Linked DNA regions of Homo sapiens: region 1 is linked to region 2. The links come from fine-mapping of genetic effects on gene expression. Tissue or cell type: whole blood. Region 2 holds a variant in brackets; the other region holds the start of a gene. All regions are shown on one strand. Distances are between the middles of the regions.

Region 1 (2,500 bases), 38 kb before region 2:
AATGAATCTCCTTAAAATCACTGGTCGACTGCCCAGACCACTCGGAGCAACCAATGCAGAAGCCTGCCGGGCCAAGAGGAACCGAGGGAAGGAAGACCTGGGCGGGCAGGTGCCCCAGGGGCTCGGGGTGCAGTGGGGGCGCGGCGGCGCGCGGGCTCACCTTGAAGTCGCGGCTGTGCTGCGGGGTGTACTCCAGGGTCCAGAGGGCCCGCACCAGGTGCGCCAGCTGCTCAGTGACCTCGCCCTGGCCCTGCGCGCCGCGGCCCGCAGGCTGCTCCGGGTCAGGCGAGGGCTCGGGCCGCCCCGCCCGGTACTGGCCCAGCGCCAGGTACTCGGCGAAGAGCTCGGTGTTGCTGAGGCACTGCAGCGTGGCGTTCATGAAGCACGTGTTGCCGTGGTTGCGGAGCCCCGCCACGCCGGGCACCGGCTCGGCGGCGCAAGCGGGCGGCGCGGGAGAGGCGGGCGGCGGCGGGCACGGCGGCGGCGTGGGCGCGGCGGCCGGCCCGGGCGGGAAGCAGCTGCGGAGGCCGCCGCGGTCTGGGGCGGCGCCCTCAGAGCTAAGGTGCGAGAGCGTGGACAGCGTCTTGAGAACGCGGCTCATGAAGCTGCCCACCGAGCGTGCAGAGGAGGGCGAGGAGGGCGAGGAAGGCGCGGCCGGCCCGGACGCCCCGGGGCCCCCCGCGCCGCCGCCGCCAGCGCGGCCGCTCCGAAACAGCCGCTTGCTGAAGGAGCGCTTCTCCTTCCCGCTCGCCGCCGCCGGCGGCCCGGACCCAGGCGCCGTTACCTTGGACATGGCGGCGGCCGCAGACACTCATCACCGCGCCCGCCCGCCCGGCCCGCGGCCCCGCCACGGCCGCCGCCGCATCCCGCAGCGCCGCGCCTCACCGGGCCCGGGGGCTCGACGCCCCACACACCTCAAAGCGCAGCCGAGCCAGCGAGCGAGCGGCGGCCGGCGGGGCCAGCGGGCGCGCGCGCGGTCCGCCCAGCTGAGCCGCTCACGTGACGTGCCTCCCGGCGCCGCCCGCCCGGCGCTGAAGCCGCCTCGGCCGCCATGTTCACTGTGGGACGGTAGCTGCCTCTCCAGCCGGACGCGATGCCTGGAGGCTGCGGGCGCGGTCCTGCTGCGTGAAGCCCGAGGGAGGCCATGTCTAGTGTGGGCGCCGTCCCGGCTTGGAGGAAAAGGCTGGGCTCCCGTTGGATGGTGGATCCCCGGGGTGGGTCTCTGTCTTTGCTGGTCAGATGGCAGAGGCGGGAACGTGCAGGAATCAGGATGCTGTCAGTTACCAGACCGTGCAAGAGCTGGTGGACATGGCCCTGACAGGTCCTGGGCAAGTCAGCCCTGTCTGGCTCCCAAGGGACGTTGCAGATACCTACCCTCTGGGTGCCAGCGGAGCGCAGTCACAGACCCTGGCACGTCCCAGCGGGCTTTTCTTCCTGGCTGCACCTTGGAGTCCCAGCGAAACGCTGTTATCATAACTACTTTCCTTTTCATTCCAGCCTTTAAAACTCCTCCGGGCTCTCCCATCATTCATCATTCCATTCATTCATTCACTCACTCATTCATTCAGCAGTTACTGGGGATATTGCAAAGAATTAAACCTATTAAATTAGAATCAAATGTCATATCCCCAGCGGATTAAATTAGCACGGTTTCTACCTGCCCTCTTGCAGCTTACATTCCTACTGGGTGTTTACAATAGCTGTTGTGTTCCACACATTATGCCAAGCATGCAATATTTTCTTTAATCTTTAATTCACCGTCTTTGAGATTGGTACAGTTCTTATCTGATTCAAACCCAAGTTTTATTTACAACCCCTATACTTGACCTCTAAACCAAAGGTCACGAATCCACAAATATCACAGGTCACAAACCCACAAATGAGTGAAGAATCCTGGTGTTTGAATCATCATATTGACTTTCAAGTGACTTGGGTCTCAGTGTTGGGGGAAATATAAGGAATGATGGGGACTATAGCAGACTTCAAATTAACATCTTTCTAAAGAGGTGGCTGCCACTCAGCTCCAGCCAGTTGTTCCCATGTGAGAACAGGAGCTCAGCGTTACCAGATCATCTGATGTTTTAAGAGAAGGCAGAAATCCTATTTTTAAACGTTGGTTCCATTAAAAAAAAAATAGTGCAGGGAGCAAAAAATAGTACATCTTTGGGATGCCTTTAGTCCAAAATCAACTAGTATATGACCTCCTCTCTATAGGCTCCCCTCTGCTAAAAGGGCTAGTCTGAGTCCTGAGGCAGAAGAGAGAAATCAGAGAAGGGAGAGCCCTTCCTCCTTTTTAAAACATGAAGGCCACCTTACACCACGTTTCAAAGTAAATGGTTTTTACCTTTGACCTCCCTCCCCAATGTAAGTAGGGCTCTATGATGACATCTCCAGGGTGCTCTGCACTGTCCCTAATCGGCTCCACTCTCCTCTTAGTCAAAATTCTTATCTGGACACCAGGAAGAAAGCCATCTGATTATTCACACTAAAATGTGAATGC
Region 2 (2,500 bases):
TTTTTCCTTTTTTGAGATGGAGTTTCGCTCTTGTTGCCCAGGCTGGGATGCAGTGGTGCGATCTCGGCTCACTGCAACCTCCACCTCCCAGGTTCTAACAATCCTCCCGAGTAGCTGGGACTACAGGGGTGTACCACAGCGCCAGGCTAATTTTTTTGTGTTTTTAGTAGAGACAGGATTTCACCATGCTTGGCCAGGCTGGTCTTGAACTCCTGACCTCAGGTGATCCACCCGCCTTGGCCTCCCAAAGTGCTTGGATTACAGGTGTGAGCCACAGTACCTGGCCTTTTCTTTTTTTTTTTTTTTTTTTGGAGGCAGGGTCTCACTCTGTCACCCAAGCTGGAGTGCAGTGGTGCAATCATAGCTCCCTGCAGCCCCGACCTCCTGGGCTCAAGCAATTCTCCTACTGCAGCCTCCTGAGTAGCTGGGACTATAGGCACATGCCACCACATCCAGCTAAAATTTTTTATTTTTTAAGAGATGGGGTCTCGCTATGTTACTCAGGCTGGTCTCAAACTCCTGAGCTCAAGTGGTGCTGCCACTTTGGTCTCTCAAAGTGCTGAGATTACAGGAGTGAACCACCACACCCACTCCATCAATGACTTCTGAGGATGGGCTAGCCCAGAGAGAGCAGAAAGAGGAAGCTGCAGGATTTGTTTCACTTAGAAGAGGCCTGGAACGAACTAACCCCCTCTGCACACTCCCCATATCAAGCCCAAATTAGCCAACCCCCATCTGCATCTGCACCCCTGGCTCTCCGAGCTCACATGTTCACTCTGCCTGCAGCATAAGTGAGCTCAAGGCTGACTCAGAAGTGACACCCAGGTGACTTCTGTAAGCACCTCAGCTGCCCCAAACCCTCATCTGAATAAACCCAGCCCCATTAATTGAGCTCATCGGGCCCTGGGTGTGATCAGCCCTTGGGACTGCCCTATCATCCTCGGCAGGACCTGTTCTAAATGGGTCATCAGAGTCCTTCTCAGGATTATGGAAAACTGGTCCGTGAGGCAGGTCAGAATCAGGCAGACTTTGTCAGAGCAGGGGTGGGGAGAAGGGAAGAAGAACAGGGGAGAAAGATTATCAAACGAAACTAACTTGTCCAGAATC[G/A]TCAGTGAGTTGGTGCAAAGCTCAAAATCAAGATCAAGTCTAAGACTCTCTCTCCGCCCTCCATGTCTTCCTCTTCTTTCTTTCTCCCTCCCTCCTTCTCTCTCTCTCTCTGGTCCTCCTTCCTTCTTTCCATCCATTATTTGTTCCATAATAATTTACTCAGCATCTATAAACTGTCATGCACTGTACTAGGTTCTGGGATAGAGAACTGAACAACCCAAACACAGTATTTGCCCTAGTGGAGCTTATACTGTAGTGGAGGAATAAAGTCTTAATAAATATAATAACACTAATATAACTAACAATAGAGGCACAGTGGCTCATGCCTGAAATCTCAGCACTTTCAGAAGCCAAGGCATGAGGATTGCTTGAGGCCAGGAATTCGAGACCAGCCTGGGCAACAGAGCAAGGCCCCCTCTCTAAAAATATTTTATTTTAAATTAGCCAGGTGTGATGGCACACATTCATAGTCCCAGCAACTTAGGAGGCTGAAGTGGGAGGATTGCTTGAGCCCAGGAGTTCTAGGCTGCAGGGAACCATGATTGCACCACTGCACTCCAGCCTGGGCAACAGAGTGAGACCCTGTCTCTAAAATAATAACAATAATAGAGGGCATTTAATTATCTATATGTATGTCTGTGTGTGTTTATTATATTTAATAAACTCATTGAACCTTCCCAGCAAATCCCGTTTTACAAAGGAGAATGCTAAAACACAGAGAGGCTAAGACATTTGTCCAAGGTCAGGTAGCCAGTACCAGGATGGGGAACCTAAACTCAGGTAATTTGGCTAAACCCAGGGGTTTCTATTCTCAATTGCTATGCTCTGCTGCCTATGCCTAGAGCAAGTGGGAGAAAGGAGAGAGGAGAGAGTTAAGAGGAGGCTGGAACCATTTGATTTGTGAAAATTAAAAGATGGTATATTGTGCTTCACGCAGGCAACTCCTTTATAACTATTTTGTGTTCTTGGGGGTCATCGAGGTAACAGTTATACCCTCCTTCCCCCCAGCACAGATTTGAGGACAATCAGTGGGCAGAGGCAGAGTGAGCTGGGTGGAGAAGGAGCCTGCCCATTAGGTAGACTCCTGGTTGGCAGTTATTTACTTGTCCTCACTGTGGCTGGTTTATGGGAGGCACCTGACAGTCACCACTACAGAAATGCTGGTTGGGACAAACTTGTCAACACACCCTGAGGGCAAGCAGACAGTGGTGGCAGAGGTGAAGCCACAGGAAGTCACACATGGGTCACCCATGAGCCTTTCCCCATTTGCCAGAGCCAGGGGTCACTTTGGATGGGTCAAGTCATGAAAGGCGTGGTCTCCTCTGCCAAGGAGTTGGGAAAGGTGGGCATGAGGCTGACACGTGTTGATGGAAAACAGCCTGGAGGAGCACCA

The links. PIP is the estimated chance that this variant, and not a neighbour inherited with it, causes the effect.
Region 1: it holds the start of USP31, and the variant in region 2 is fine-mapped to the expression of USP31 in whole blood (GTEx, PIP above 0.99).

Annotation. Positions count from the first base shown.
Region 1 is chr16:23,148,478-23,150,977 of GRCh38, forward strand. It overlaps USP31 (ubiquitin specific peptidase 31), which reads right to left and starts at 975. Exons shown (of 16, transcript NM_020718.4): 1 at 161-975. The coding sequence starts at 793. RefSeq lists silencers at 116-345, 476-575, 676-725, 876-975 and an enhancer at 1,156-1,375.
Region 2 is chr16:23,186,816-23,189,315 of GRCh38, forward strand. The region is part of intron 2 of SCNN1G (sodium channel epithelial 1 subunit gamma); the gene reads left to right. Among named protein-coding and RNA genes, the nearest start is that of SCNN1G, 5.3 kb to the left of the region's middle. The variant G/A (reference allele first, on the strand shown) is at 1,108.